2 separate regions of the Homo sapiens genome follow, and region 2 is linked to region 1. A link means that fine-mapping ties the variant in region 1 to the expression of a gene that starts in the linked region. Tissue or cell type: whole blood. Region 1 holds a variant in brackets; the other region holds the start of a gene. All regions are shown on one strand. Distances are from middle to middle.

Region 1 (8,175 bases):
AGGCCCTCTGATGAGCTCCCCAGCCACCCTTCTGTAAGGGTGTGCAGGTCCTGAGCACAGCAGGCACTCAGGCTGGAATAAGGTATGGGGCACCTCTTCCCGACGGCACCCTCAGTCTCTGCATGTGGCTCTCTCTACTGGAATTTGGGAGGCCAGGGCAAGCATCTCCCTTAGGCTCCCCCGACAGCATGGGGAGACCTCAGCCCTCCCACCAGCCTGAGCGGTCCCAAGCTCAGCCGCTAGCCACAAGCCCCAGGTTTGCTGCCCAGGCCCAAGCTACCCACGGGCAGTGAGAAAGGTACCATCTCCCAGAATGGGACCCTCTTGCCTGTGTGGTCAGTGCCCTTTCTCCTGGATACAGACCTTCCTGAGCAGCCAAAACTTCCTTCTCGCCCGACGGGCAAGGAGACCTGAGGATTAACCGCATGCTTAGCAGCTTCCTGGAGGCCCCCCCTTGGAACTGGAAATAGTCCTGGATACCATGATTGAAGCAACTTCAGGCTGTACTGAGCCCACGCCTGGCTCTGGGGTTGCCCTCCTCTGCACCTCCTGTCTGGTCACCTCTTGCTTTTCCTATGCTATGCAGCCAAGCAGGTGACCAGGAAGGCCTCTCACCCAGAAGCCACCTGGCTCCTGCTACCCACTGTGCACTTGTTCCAGGTGCATTCCCAAGGGCCGACTTCCTTGGTTCATTTTGACAAACTTTGAGGTTGCTCGTCATAGCCCTTAAGAATGGAGACAAACACCCTCCCTCCCCCATTTTCCAACCCCCGATGTACACGGGCAAAAAACAGAAGCTCAGAGAGGGTGAGGACTTTCCACAGAGTCACACAGCTGGTGAAGTCGCTGGTCTAAGCCTTTAACTAGGGCCAACTTGACCCTTCACCTGCCTGCCTTTTCCCACCCCTGCCCTCCCTACAGGTGCTGTCTGCATGTAGAATCTTTCAGGCCCAGATTCAGGATGTCCAGCTGAGTGTGGGAAGGGTGGTGTGGTATGGGCCCAGCCACATGGTAGCTGAAAGGCTCTGGGGCCAGGGGGTCCTAGCTCCCAGCCCCGCCCCTTAGAGCCTCACCAGGGACTCAAGTCTATTGACACAAGGGCCAGCACCTGTCACGAGGTCATCTTCCCTAACATATACTTTCATTTAGGGGCAAAGAACTTCTCTTTTTGTTATTTTGCATTAAAATAACCAAGATTCATCCAGACGTGGTGGCTCACACCTGTAATCCCAGAACTTTGGGAGGCTGAGGTTGGAGGATTGCTTGAGTCCAGGAGTTAGAGACCAGCTTGAGCAACATAGTGAGACTCCATCTCTACATAGAATTTTAAAAACTTCCAAAGAATTAAAAAATATATATTAGCCAGGCGTGGTAGCATGTGCCTATAGTCCCAGCTATTGCGAGGCTGAGGATCACTTGAGCCTGGGAGGTCGAGGCTGCAGTGAGCCCTGACTGCACTACTGCACTTTAGCCTGGGAGACAGAGTGAGACCCTGTCTGAAAATAATCAAGATCAACCCTGGACAGAAAGGAATTGCTAGAGTAATACCCTTTGACCTGAAATGCTGTGGGGTCTAAGGTGCTGCCTTCCCCTCCGCCCTGTGTGCTAGTCCTTGTATGTTAAGACTCAGTAGTTCCCCGTATCCCAGTAAAAAGGCAGGGGTGGGATGATGGGTACACTAAAATCCCATTCCCCACCAGCACACAATATACTCAGGTAACAAACATGCGCATGTACCCCTTGAATCTAAACTAAATTAAATTTTAAACAAACGCAAGGGTGTGACCTGGATGGAGTGGTACAGTCATCCCCTGGCACCAAGCAGCCCATTAGCCCAGAATGGTTATCTGATCAGATGCCTGTCTCCTATGGACCTATGGGAGCTGGACACAGGGAAGGAGCCTTTGATGCCGTGGAACAAGGTGGAGGAATTGTCCATGCGAAGTGGCCCCTGAAGAACTGGTACGAAGGGGTTGGCTGCAGTGGTTTGAGAGTCAGGGACTGGGTTGGGGGCCTGGGCCTACAAGGCTTTCTAAGCCCCCTAGGACTGGGGACTTTGTCCTGGATGCTATGGGAGGCCACTGAATGGGGTGGGATAAGGGGCAGGAAGGATGGGTCCACAAGAAAACTGATCAGAGTGACTTTTTTTTTTTTTTTTGACACAAAGGCTTGCTCTGTTGCCAAGCTAGAGTGCAGTGGTGCAATCTCAGCTCGCTGCAACTTCTGACTCCCTGGTTCAAGCAATTGTCCTGCCTCAGCCTCCCGAGTAGCTGGGACTACAGTTGCGTGCCACCACGCCTGGCTAATTTTTGTATTTTCAGTAGAGACAGAGTTTCACCATGTTGGCCAGGATGGACTCGATCTCTTGACGTCATGATCCACCCACCTCAGCCTCCCAAAGTGCTGGGATTACAGATGTGAGCCACGGCACCTGGCCCAGATTGACTTTTAAAAGCAGGACCCAGGGCCGGGTGCAGTGGCTCACACCTGTAATCCCAGCAGTTTGGGAGGCTGAGGCGGGCAGATCACTTGAGGTCAGGAGTTTGAGACCAGCCTGGCAAACATGGTGAAAACCCGTCTCTACTAAAAATACAAAAATTAGCCGGGTGTGGTGGCGCGTGCCTATAGTCTCAGCTACTCAGGAGGCTGAGGCAGGAGAATTGTTTGAACCCGGGAGGTGGAGGCTGCAGTGAGCCAAAATCACATCACTGCACTCCAGCCTGGGCGAAAGAGTGAGGCTTCATCTCAAAAAATAAAAATAAAAATAAAAAATGAAATAAAAAATTCTGGCCAATAAAACAACAACAAAAAAGATCCTGGAACCCTTCTTTCTCCTTCTTGCTCCCTCTCTTGCCACATGACATGCCTGCTCCTCCTTCCCCTTCTGCCACGAATGGAAGTTTCCTGAGGCCTCACCAGGAGCAGGTGCTGGTGTCACGCTTCTTGTACAGCCTGCAGAACCGTGAACTAAATCAACCTCTTTTCTTTTTAAATCACTCAGCCTCCAGTATTTCTTTATGGCAATACAAAATGGACTCAGACACTCCTTGATCTCAAACGTCCCAGCTTTCAGAACGGTGAAGCATAACTGTTCATTGTTCAAGCCCTGGCTCATGGTATTTTGTTATGGTGGCCTGAGCTAATACAGGAGGCCGGCTGGGGGCCTGGCCCTTGAGAGATGGGGGAGGCTTAGAGCACAGCGGCAGGGGAGTAGGGAAGAAGCAGACAGGGTAGAAGACACATTCTGTAGTGACAGACCCACTCACTGGTTATGGTCTGGAGACTGGGATGGAAGAAAAAGGACCTCAGGAATGACTGCCAGGTTTCTGGGCTTGAGCTACAGGGGAGGTGGAGACACTATGTCCTGGGCAAGGAGTTTTGTTGTGGAAGTTCCAGCTCTGGAGCACTCCAGCCTTTAGAGGTCTGGTTAAGGAGAAGCCCAAGAGGTGGGAGGAAGACAGGAGGGTGGAGAGTCACTGAGACTGGTGCACAGTGTCTCCAGAAGCACGGAGCACCCCCTTTCAATGGCAACCTGGCTTTGTAGGACTTTTGACACGCTTACCCCCACCGGCTTTCCCCGCGCCTGCATGGCCTCTCTAACCATCCACATCCATGGTGAGGGTCCCTCCCTTGCCTGCCATTGCTCCATCCACCCAGTCCCCAACTCGGTAGATTTGTATTGTGTCCATCCTTTGAGGCTCTCCTCCACTCCCCCAGCTCCTGTCTCAGAGTCCCCCAGCCTCTTGGGTCCCCCTCTGTGTCTTGTGTAAGAGCTGAGTGTGCTCTTGTCTGTTTCCCAGGAGGTGAGCTCCTCACGTACAGGGGTCGCGCTGCCTCCTCCTCTGACTCCCTGGCTCTGAGCGAAGGCTCTGGCATCTGTAGCCATGAGAGGAATGTTTGCCGAGTGACCCCATGAGCGAGTGATGCCAGCATAAAGGCCAGTGCACCCAAGGCTGGCCCAAAATATCCTCTGGCAACCAGAGCCGCCCCGCCGGGGGATGCATTCTGCCTTTGAAAGTAGTGAGTAGCACATCCTTACAGGTACCCAAGAGGAGAAGGATTGGACACTATTCAGGGTGGAAATGGATGAGGGGATCCCTGCGATGGGGGAGAGGGTCTGACTACCCATCCCCTAAGGACAGTCCCTGGTCTGGGGCCTCCCAGCCTGAGAACGAGGCAGGAGCCACCACCATCGGAAGCTGTCAGATTCACAGTCATAATTCCAGAGTGTGACACTTAGTTAATCTGAAAATATTTGCTAACCTATTATGAATAACAATATTTGCAGCTTAAAATGCTTACCCTCCATAGCTCCAGAGTGTGAAGATGTGCTTCTACCCAGACAAAGATGTACTCACTACTATCCGAGCAAATTGACACAGGGAGCTTATGAGCCTAATTGTTGGCATCTCAGGCTGATTTGCGTCCCCTGGGGCCACTCTGATAACTTGGCTAAACAAATACAGGAGGTGCTGTAGGGACAGGCTCACAGGGCCAGAGGGCTCCATGGAGCCGGATGACGGGGAAGTATTTCAGGCCTCTCACCAGAACCTCCTGCTATGCTCTGAATGTCTGTGTCCTCCCAAAATTCATATGTTGAAATCCTAATTCCCTACGTGAGGGTATTAGGAGGTGGGGCCTTTGAAGGTGATTAGGTCATGAGAGCAGAGCCCACAGTAATGGGGTGAGTGCCCTTATATAAAGGACCCCAGGCTGGTTGTGGTGGCTCATGCCTGTAATCCCAGCACTTTGGGAGGCTGAGGCGGGAGGATCACTTGAGGCCAGGAGTTCAAGACCAGCCTGAGCAACATAGCAAGACCTCATCTTTAAAAATATATATATAAATAAATAAGTAAAAAGGATA[T/C]CAGAGAGCTCTTTGCCCCTTTTCTGCCATGTGAAGATACAATATGAAGTCTGCAATCTGTAACCTGAGAGATGGGGTTTCACCATGTTGGCCAGGATGATCTTGAACTCCTGACCTCAAGTGATCCACCTGTCTCGTCCTCCCAAAGTACTGAGATTACAGGTGTGAGCCACCACTAAATTTCTGTTTCTGATAAGCCACTCAGTCTACGGTACTTTGTCAAAATAGCCTGAACAGACTAAGGTACCCCCCTCACCCCATCTCATCACAGAGTCTCTGGACTTTTTTTCTTGGCTGCCTATATGGTTCTTAGGGTCATCTTCACAGTCAGCTACGGGGTGTGGCCAGGCCCCGTGGGTATGTGGTTAAGGTCATTGGCTAACATGGATGACCAAGGCCATTGCAGTTCCCAGACACTGAGAGGCTCCACACACTTGTGGATGGGGGTCTGTCTTTCCTGAGGAAGGGTCAATGGCCAGCTCGAGGCTGTGTCCACAGATAAAGATGTTTGCACAGAATGTGGAGCCCAGAGGAGACAAGGATCTATCAAGGGCCTCCCAGGAGCTTGTGCCAGAATGTGCAACTCAAGCCAGTGTTGGCATGAAGGAAACTTGGCGTAACTGCAGAGACCACGGCTTCTTCAGAGCCTCACATCTCCTGTGTTGGTGCCATCGCAGCTGCACAGCCCCCAGCCCTAACACCCAGGACACCTGAAGCAAGAGCCCTTTCCTGTGGCTCCAGCTGAAATCCAGGGGCCCCTTTCTCTCCCTAGCCCAATTCATGCCCCCTCTAAACCTTTGCTGTGGCCAGGGTTTAGAGGGGGCATTGCTGGCCCCACCCAAGAGGCAAGGTCTGAAAGTGGAGAAAGACGGATTCCCCAAGACTAGCTGGGATGCTCTTACAAGAATGACAGAAAAGAGATGCTGGGGCTGGATGCAGTGGCTCACACCTGTAATCCCAGCATTTTGGGAGGCCAAGATGGGTGGATCACCTGAGGTCAGGAGTTCGAGACCAGCCTGGTCAACATGGTGAAACCCCATCTCTACTAAAAATACAAAAATTAGTCGGGTCTGATGGCAGGCGCCTGTAATCACAGCTACTTGGGAGGCTGAGGCACGAGAATCACTTGAACCCGGGAAGTGGAGGTTGCAGTGAGCTGAGATAGTGCCACTGTACTCCCACTGGGGCAACAGAGTGAGACTCCGTCGAAGAAAGAAAAAAAAAAGAAAAGAAAAAAGAAAAAAGAGATGCTGGGCAGGAGAAAAGCCTCCCTTGAGGGAAAAGAGAAGGAAAGGACCAACTGCCTTGGCCCATTCAGTGATCTGGCCATGAAACCAGGGGCTGGCTGAAATGTCATTGTCCAAGAAAAGGTGCTGGCTGTGCACAGTAGCTCATACCTGTAATCTCTGCACTTTGGGAGGTTGAGGCAGGCAGATTGCTTAAGCCCAGGAGTTTGAGACAAGTCTGGGCAACATAGCAAGACTCTGTCTCTACAAAAAATAAAAAAAAGTAGCTGGGTGTGATGGTGCACACCTGTTGTCTCAGCTACTCCAAAGGCTGGGGTAGGAAGATCACTCAAGCCCAGGATATTGAGACTGCAGTGAGCTATGATTGCACCACTGCACTCCAGCCTGGGCAACAGAACAAGACCCTGACTCTTAAAAAAAATTTTTTTTAAAAAAGAGAGGTGCTGGTGACCATGATAGACAGCGATTCAGAGCAGAGAGAGAGGAGGCCCAAATAGCTTAGTCCTGTCCACAGTGGCAGAGGAAATGGGAGAATTAAGGCAATTTCAATGAAAACAACAATTTTAAAAAAAATGCCCCACCCAATGCTTATACCTCAATTATCTAGATTTGCTCAAGCAGGAATTATCAGAATAACTTAGGAAAAGCTTCTTTTGGGAGTAAGGACAAGAGGGCAATCGTGGCCAGGCACGGCAGCTCATGCCTGTAATCCTAGTACTTTGGGAGGCTAAGGTGGGTGGATCACTTGAGATCCAATCATTTGAGATGAGGAGTTCAAGACCAGCCTGGGCAATAGGGTGAGACACTGTCTCTACTAAAAATACAAACAATTCTCCAGGCATGGTGGCACATGCCTGTAGTTCCAGCTACTGGGGAGCCTGAGGCACGAGAATCACTTGAATCTAAGAGCCTAGATGGTGCCACTGCACTCCAGCTTGGGTGACAGAGCAAGATCTGTCTCAAACAAACAAACAAACAAAAAAAACCAAAGGATGACTGACCTGTGTCAACATCCAGAGTTCCCATCTCAGCTATGTGCACAGGAAGGGCCAGTCTTTCTCCTTTACTCTCATTCACTCTACAGATGCCTACCGGGTACCTGCCAGGTGGGCCAGGCCCTGTTCTCACCACTGCTCTGAATGGTCACCACAGAGAATGGTCTCCCTCCTCTCAGGGAGCCCATGTTCTGCTTGGGGAAGGCAGCCAACAAGATCTAAAGCGTCGCTGAGTGACAGGGACATGTCCTGTGAAATGCATGGAGAGGTGATGTTGTCATTGTGTGGACGTCACAGAGTGCACTACACAAACCTGGATGGGGTTGCCTACTGCACATCTAGACTGCATGGTGTGGCCTGTGGCTCCTAGACCACAGACCCAGACAGCACGTTACTGCGCTGAATGCCGCAGGCAGCTGGAACCCAGTGGTTAAGTATCTGTGTACCTAAACAAATCTCAACTTAGAAAAGGTACAGTAAAAATATAGTATTATCATTGATGGGACCACTGTCACCACTGCACACTGCCTTTGACCCAAACATTATTCGGTGCATGGCCATCGATGATGGAGATTGCGATTCGTGTACTGGAGAAAATAAAGCGAGGTGGGCTGAGAGTGGGAGGCCCGCAGGGCAGGGCACTTTGGATCAGGTTGTCAGGAAATGCCTCCCCGAAGAGGGCGCATTTGCAATTAAAGCCAAGTGACAAGAAAAAACTGCCATGCACAGATCTGGGGTCTAGAGGGTGGGGCAGGAGGGACAACAAGAGCAAAGGCACTGGGGACGGAAGGGCTTCATGGGCAGTGGGAGCCCCACGGGAGCCCCCTAGGTCTGGCTTGCAAGCTCTCTGGCCCTCTGCTGGACACCCCAGAGCAAGCCAGCCCCTGCCTGGGACTCCCTGAACACACTGCCCCCAGAGAACCACAGGCAGAGGGACTGGCTCACCTGAGTTCCACAGGAAAGACAGACTGTCCTGAGAACAGACACTCGCTCATTTTCATCACTGTTCCTCAAACAAGTAGATTTTGTTTTAAAGCAAACAAATAAACAGCGTTGTCAAGTTGGTCAA
Region 2 (8,175 bases), 70 kb after region 1:
ACAGAAGCACCCTTTCACTGGTTTTCATCCTTCCCACCTTGGTGGCTTTACACAGCAGTGTGCGCTGGTTCTGAGCAGGAACCAAGCCTTGGGGAGCATGGGTTGGGCCCTTGCCTGGCTGGCTGGGGGGCCTGTGCAGGCAGATTGTCCCGCCCAGGGAGGACAGGAGCCAAGCCTCCAGGGCTTTCCCATGCTCACGTTCCCTGGCGCTGGGCCGCAGACACTCTGTGGTTGACAGCCTGGTCCTGTTCATCTTGCCCGGCTCCCACTTCACAGCTCACACTGGTATAGTGTGGCCCCCTCCTCTTCTAGTATTTCCATGTGTAGCCTCACAAGATAACTGGCTCATCCAGGTGGCCACAGATGTCCAGCTTGGCCCCACAGCAAGGCCTTAGCCAGCTCCACTGCCAGCCACAGCCCACACCTTCCCTGATCAACCTTTGCTAGCAGCGGGGCTCTTTAATTGTCCGCTAAGACGCCTTTGAGGACCTGGTAGAAGTTAGGCTCCAGCTGCCTGGGGAAATGCACATGGGCCCAACAGTAGGCAGGCTCCTGGGTCTCCAAAGGCTGTCCAGGGATCCCATGTTAAGGAATCCTATCTGGGAAGGACTTCCCCCTTGCAATCCCTTGGTCTTCCTTCTCCTTAACCTTTATGTCCTGGTGCCCGTCCTCCATCATCAGAGCCTGAACCATATAGGAAGCTAAGCAAATAACCCCCAAATCTCTTTATGAGTAATAACAACACAAATTGAGCAGTTACCTTGTGCCAGATACTGTTGAAAACACTTGAGGGGTATTAATACATTTACCCCTCACCGCAACCCCATGACGTTGGGACAATTAGAATTATACCCATTTTACAGATGAGAAGATTAAAGCACAGAGAGGTTGGAGAACCTTCCCAAAGTCTCATAGCAAAGGGGAGGTGTTGCCCTCCCTACACAGCAGCTGGTTCACCACCTCTGATGCAATCCACAGTCTCCCTCAAGGCTGGGCCAATGCTCGGGAGCTCTGGACTTGAGGCAAGCACAGAATGGAATGAACCCAAACACCCAAAGGTGAGCTGCCCTAGAAAGGCGGACATTGGGCCGGGTGCGGTGGCTCATGCCTATAATCCCAGTACTTTGGGAGGCCCAGGTGGGCGGATCACCTGAGGTCGGGAGTTTGAGACCAGCCTGGCCAACATGGTGAAACTCCATCTTTACTAAAAATACAAAATTAGCCAGGCATGATGGCACATGCCTGTAATCCCAGCTACTTGGTAGGCTGAGGCAGGAGAATCGCTTGAACCCAGGAGGCGGAAGTTGCAGTGAGCTGAGATCGCGCCATTGCACTCCAGCCTGAGCAAAAAGAGCAAAATTCCGTCTCAAAAAAAATAAAAATGAAAACAAAAGACATCAGTGGTTTCTGAAGACTCCAAGCTGCTGTATAGGCTGTGTCTGCCATCTTGGACACAACTTTTCTATTGTTCCTATTAAATGTGTTCATCCTTCTGGCTTACATGCCATTTTCTTCATGCAAACTTCTTGCCATCCAAGGATGGGTTGGATACATCCTTCTCCACATGAAGTCATAGCCCCAAGACTCTTCCCTTCCCAGCCCTATCATGCTACACTGCAAATGCATGACAGCCTCCCTTCCACACCGGAAGCTCCCAAGAGGGCAGGGATTGTGTCTTGCTTTGCTATGTCTTGAATTAAAAAATAATAATAATAATTATTGGCTGGGCGCAGAGGTTCACACCTGTAATCCCAGCACTTTGGGAGGCCAAGGAGGGAGAATCACTTGAGGCCAGGAGTTTGAGATCAGCCTGGCCAACATAGTGAAACACTGTCTCTATTAAAAATACAAAAATTAGCCGGGCGTGGTGGCAGGCGCCTATAATCTCAGCTACTTGGGAGGCTCAGGCAGCAGAATCGATTGAACCTGGGAGGCGGAGGTTGCAGTGAGCTGAGATAGCGTCATCACACTCCAGCCTGGGCAACAAGAGCTAAACTCCGTCTCAAATAATAATAATAATAACAACAATAATAATAAGGCCGGGCACAGTGGCTCACTCCTGAAATCCCAGCACTTTGGGAGGCCAAGGCGGGCGGATCACGAGGTCAAGAGATGGAGACCATCCTGGCCAACATGGTGAAACCCCGTCTCTACTAAAAATACAAAAATTAGCTGGGCGAGGTGGCGCATGCCTATAATCCCAGCCGCTCGGGAGACTGAGGTAGGAGAATCACTTGAACCCAGGAGGCAGAGGTTACAGTGAGCTGAGATCGCGTCATTGCACTCTAGTCTGGACGACACTCTGTCTAAAAAATAAATAATAATTATTATTATTATTTAATTTTTATTGAGTAAAAGATACATTCAGTAAAGTGCACAAATCCTAGGTGTGAACTTTTATGTATGTATCAATCAATGAGCTTTTATGTATGTATACAGTCATGAAACCACCACTCAGATCAAAGCATACATGTCTAGCCCCTAGAAGTTTCCCCTGGTCTCCTCCCGGTCATTACTCCTCACCCTAGGGGTAAATACTGTTACGGTGACTGCTGTCTTTTCTTAAACTTCAAATAAATGGAAACTTCAAATAAGTGTGTCTGGCTTCTTGGGCTCAACATGTTGTCTCTGAAATTCTCATGTTGCTGCATGATTCCTTGGTTTGTCCTTTTTATTGCTGTGTGGTATTCCATTGAATTAATATAACAACATTTATGTATCCATTCTATTCTTGATGAACATGTCAGCTAGGATGTGGAGGATTTGGGCTCTATCTTTGCTGGTGGGTGTATACATTGCTGTAATGACTAAGGAAAACTGTCTTGTCTACCATCATTATAATAACTCATTTAGTGAGCATTTACTGTGTGCCAGGTACTGTACAGGAGTCAGCTACATTATCTCAATCTTCACAATGATCCTTGGGAGTAGATAGTTGCCATCTGTGAAACAGGATAATTGTGGCATCAACATGAATAGGATTATTGTGAAGTTTAATTGAGATGATACTTTGAAGGACTTAGCCCAGTGCTGCCATTTTGGAAACACTGTTTATGATACCTGTTACTGGTGATTCCTAACGGGCACAGGATGGGGGGTTCAGGTGCCTGGGTCCCTGCTGAGCAAGTAGCCCAGCAGCCTTGGCCTCAGAGCACCTGGGGGAATCATGAATTTGTGAGCCTCTTTGATAAGACCCTGGCTCTAACTTCAAGAAAACGGTCACTAGGGGAGGGTGAGGGACAGGACTGAGACTTTAGCTTAAGAAGGGCCCTGGGAGCATTCCAGAGCCTTCTTTTACGCACATCTTCCTGAAGCTGAGTACAGAGGGTACTCTGAGGTGATGACTGTTCCTTACCTGTCTCTCTCATTAGCCGGTAAGCCCTGCAAGGGCTTGGCCAGTGCCTGTCTTTCAAATGTTCATTCAGAAACAATTTAAGTGTCTCCCTTGGTCCAGGCACTATGCCAAGAACTGACAGATACAGCAGTGAGCAAGATGGGCAAGGTGGGGAGAGAGACAAGAAACAGAGAGGCACCAAGACTGTGTAGGGGCTGGGCTCCCAGCACTTTGGGAGGCCAAGGCGGGAGGATCGCTTGAGCTCATGGGTTTGAGACCAGCCTGAGCAACATAGCAAGACCCTATCCCTACCTGCCACCCCCCACCCCCCGCCACAATAAAAAATACAAGTCTTGAGGGAGAAAGGACAGAGGAGCTGTGGAGAGGAGGCCTGAGGTCTGAGGGTGGGGGATCAGGGTCAGGTCCTGTGGAGCCTGTAGCCTAGGACACGGAGTGTGGATTTGACCCTTATGCGAAACAACTGGAAGGCTTTTTGTTTCTTTTTCTGTAGAAATGGGGGTCTCACTGTTACCCAGGCTGGTCTCGAACACCCCAAGGGATCAGCCGTCTCGGCCTCCCACAATGCTGGGATTAAAGGCGTGAGCCACCGCGCCCGGCCTCAACTGGAAGGCTTTAAGTGAGAGATGGGGTGCAAGGGAATCCCAGAGTCAGAAAGGTCTTCAGAGAGCCAGGAAGGGCTTGCGGGGGAGGGGCGCATATGGAAGGGGCGCATGGAAGGAACTCACAGATTCCTTGAATGAATGAATGAACGACCCAATGCACTGACGGATGAATGGACAGGCGGCCAGGAATAGCAGCCGGCCCCCAGGGAGCCCCAGACCCCGCGGCCTGAAGCCTTGGTTCTAGGCCAAGGCACAGGCGCGGTGACCTTGGGGATGTCCCCGCCCAGGACTCAGGGCCCGGAACTCGGCGTCTCGGGGGCGGGGAGGGCGTGCCTGGCGGGACAGCGCGCGCGGAGGAACGGCGGGCGGTGCTCCTCGGGTAGGCCCCCCACACATCCCCTTGGCTCAGCCCTGCCGGGGCCCGAACCCGCGCCGCCCGCCGTGTTTACATTCCACCCGCGCCAGCCACGCGGCTTTTTGCCGCTCCAGCGCCGCTCGGCCCCGCCCCCGGCGCCCGCGGCCCGCCCCTCGCCGCCGCGCGCCAGACTTCTCCCGCGTCCCGCCCGCCGCCCCGCCCCGCGTCCCGCGCCCCGCGCCCCGCGCCCGGCCCTCGGCGCGCAGGCCCTGTCACTTGGCCCCGCCCTGTCCGCCGGCCCCGCCCCTGATTCCCCGTCCCTGCGCCTCGCGGGCCGGCGCCGTGGAGGGGCGGGTCCGGGGGCGGGGCGAGGGACGGGGCGGGACGGGCTCTGGGTCCCGCGCGGCCGCTGAGGGGCTGGGAGCCGCGGCGGGGCGGTGCGAGGGCGGGCCGGGGCCGGTTCCGCGCGCAGGGATTTTAAATGTCCCGCTCTGAGCCGGGCGCAGGAGCAGCCGGCGCGGCCGCCAGCGCGGTGTAGGGGGCAGGCGCGGATCCCGCCACCGCCGCGCGCTCGGCCCGCCGACTCCCGGCGCCGCCGCCGCCACTGCCGTCGCCGCCGCCGCCTGCCGGGACTGGAGCGCGCCGTCCGCCGCGGACAAGACCCTGGTGAGTCTACTGCCGCGGGCTGCGGACAGGGACTCCTGGGGCCCAGACCGCGCCGGGGAGCTGGGTGGGGGCGGGGTGCGGCCGGGTCGCGGGTCCCCGGGCGGCGTCGCGGGGCGCCCGGGAGGGTGCTGAGAGCGCGGCGGGGTGGGGTGGAGGGGACACTGAGGCAGCCCGGGCCCCGGGAGGCGACGGGCCGGTGAGGGCGGCGGGGGCGGCGGGACCCCGGGTCGGGGGTCGGCGGGTGCCCGGGTCGCGGGTGACAGGCCACCCCGCCATCGGCCATCTTCCTGGCTCGCCCGGCCGCCCGCGCGCAAAGGGGGAAGGGGTACTGGGCCCGCGGCCTGACCCCGCCGCCGCCTCACCCCGCGCCGCCCCGCAGGCCTCAGGCCGGAGCAGCCCCATCATGCCGAGGGAGCGCAGGGAGCGGTGAGTGCCCGCGCCGCGGGGCCGGACGGGACGGGACGGGACGGGACGGGTGGCGTGGGGGAGGGGCGGCCGCGGGTGCTCACCCGGCCCGGTGCCACCCGGGTCCACAGGGATGCGAAGGAGCGGGACACCATGAAGGAGGACGGCGGCGCGGAGTTCTCGGCTCGCTCCAGGAAGAGGAAGGCAAACGTGACCGTTGTGAGTACAAAAGAGACAGGTTGGGGAGCATCCCCCCCATCTCACCTGGGTACCCGACTTGGCTCTGCCTACGGGGGCGGGGGTCCCTTGGGCAGGAACGGAGCTCATAACCTGATCAGCTTTCTCTTCTTCTCTCTGTTTTTGTCTTGTTTGGTGTGTTTCCTTGGGGTCATGGGGGTGGCTTCATGTTAGTTTTTGCAGGATCCAGATGAAGAAATGGCCAAAATCGACAGGACGGCGAGGGACCAGTGTGGGAGCCAGGTAGGTCCGCCCGGGGTTGGGCCTCTGTGGAGGTCCTTCTCCCCCTGGGTCACATGGGGTTTCATGCTGTCTTGTCTCTTGCTGGAGACACTCTGGTGAGAGTGAACTTCTCTAATGCAGCCACAGCCCATATGGCCCAGCACTGTACCTGTCAGTGGGCACTGGCCTCTGCCAGTCCTGGGATTCCAGGAAGCTTGGTGTTCCTGACTGGCACCGTCTGAGATTACAGATATGTGCCTAGCCTGGAAGAACCAGAATGGACATCACAGTATTCAGTCCTCCCCTTCTGCCCAGGAGGAAACTGAGACTCAGTTAGAGGAAGAAAGTAACCCAGAGTCCTGTGCCATCCAGGGGCAAAGTTGGGCTCTCGGCCTTGTCTGTAAAAGCTGGTGAACTGGGGGAGGGTTCCTGGGTGTTTATAAGCAACAACTTTCCCCCTATCTACACCTATTTTTCTTGTCATGGTGTTTAAGGACCTCCTCCGTCTTCTGTAGGTCAGATTTCAAATTCTTCTCCTCTTTCTGGCCCTGGAAGTTCTTATAGCCCCTCCAGCAATTACCTGCATTGATCCCCAGCTCAGCCTGACCTCAGCAAGAGTATCAGTGGAACATTCAGTGTAATGATAGGTGGTGTCTCAATACATTTTTTTTTGACTGCTTTTCTTTTCTCTCCTTAAGGAGTTCCTGCCAAATTTCCTGCATGCAGTGTGATAATCATTATAATATCAGAAGTTTCTTGCAGAAAAAGCTTGTACTATCTCTTTACTTTCAGAAATGGCTGGAGACTGTAGTTATGGCTCCAGTGGGGGAAGCAGCCTATCTCTAAACTAGCTGGTCAGGCCTTCTGACTCTATCACAGATAAACGCTGAACAGAAACAGTGTTCGACCTGAGTGCAGGGATCCCAGCTAGGTTAGCAGAGAAGCCCCTCACTTTGCAGAGCAGCAGCCAGGGTAGTTCATCTGGAAGCGTGAAGGGTTTCAACGCAGTGCGCCGTGTTCTAAATAGCAGTTGTCACTGCATGTAAGGTCCCCCGAAATAAGCATTTCTGAGGAGGGTCCACTGACTATTGAAGAAAGGGTTGCTGATTTCCTTTTTCATTCAAAGAAATCATTTCAGAGACGGAAATGAGACGGCATATCCCCAGTTTTTTTTTTCTTCCCTTAAAGTACATTCAAATCAAGCAAGTTGATTTTTTAGGTATTATAAAATGAATTCTGACTTTGTGAAATTCAGGACTGTTTATTTTCCCAGCTGTGTTTTGAATAGAAAAGAAACTTCCAGCTGAAGATGAAGCAGGGCCGTCCCTGTTGCATTCTTGGAGTTTTAGAAGCATGTCTGTTCTCAAGGATAGCCTGAGCAGTGACGAGGGTGCCTCCTGGGACGGATTGTGGCTCTGTCCCCTGGCCACAGTGTGGATAGCTGTGCTGCCGGAATAGCCATACCATTTCCCACTAGAAGGCATTTTCGTGGTTATCCAGAGATTAATGGCGACAGATTTCTATACGTTTTGTAGAGTAGATAGCTTAAACATTAGCTGTCTATGTATGGAGCAGTATCTTTGTTATTTCTTTGTGGAGCTTCATGAAACTAGAACTTGGGGGTACAACAGAACCTTTTTCCCTGCTCACATACAGAATTTTTCTCTGGAGTTATCATAATTCCCCCCAGTACGACAGTCTTGAGCTACTTGGAGCCATTGTGCCAAACTCTTGTGTAACTGCTTCATCGAGACCACATGGAAGCTTTTTAATTTTCATCTTAGGCTGTTCTTAATGAAAAGAATACCCTTTTATCTAAGATCTACTTAACACGTCCATTTTGTTGTTTAATTTTTTTGCACAAGACTCAATCTTTCTATTGAAGTGGAATCCTGGACTGTTACTTTTCAGAAAATAATCCTATGTAAGGAAAAAAGTGGTATGAGGAGTTGGAGTGGTTAGGAATCCCGTGGGTCTCTTATTGTTATCTCATTCTTTCCTAAATAAAGTCAGACAGATCTTGCTTTGAAACTTGGTGTACACTCAAGGACATAGACTTAATTATTCTACCTCATCCACTGGTCCCTAAAAAGGCCAACTTTGGAAACCATTTGTCTGCTGATGGTTCACCTAGTTTGGGAACTGCTGCTGGACTCATCTATGTCCAAAGGCCTGCTCTCAGATGTGCCAGCCATCTGGCTGTAGAGGGTGGCACCCAGCATTATGCCTTCAAGACTAGAATTCATTCTTCCTGAATGAAGAACAACTTACAGCGGTTGTAATGTGACCCTTTTTGAGTTAAGGAAATGCCACCCGCACATGGTACTAGAACT

The links. PIP is the estimated chance that this variant, and not a neighbour inherited with it, causes the effect.
Region 2: CCNE1 starts here. The variant in region 1 is fine-mapped to the expression of CCNE1 in whole blood (TOPMed, PIP above 0.99).

Annotation. Positions count from the first base shown.
Region 1 is chr19:29,737,523-29,745,697 of GRCh38, forward strand. No RefSeq gene overlaps it. Among named protein-coding and RNA genes, the nearest start is that of C19orf12, 26 kb to the left of the region's middle. RefSeq lists enhancers at 7,382-7,883, 7,884-8,175. The variant T/C (reference allele first, on the strand shown) is at 4,865.
Region 2 is chr19:29,807,175-29,815,349 of GRCh38, forward strand. CCNE1 (cyclin E1) reads left to right here and starts at 4,817. Exons shown (of 12, transcript NM_001238.4): 1 at 4,817-4,978; 2 at 5,358-5,404; 3 at 5,515-5,602; 4 at 5,795-5,863. The coding sequence starts at 5,382. RefSeq lists silencers at 4,271-4,900, 8,064-8,175.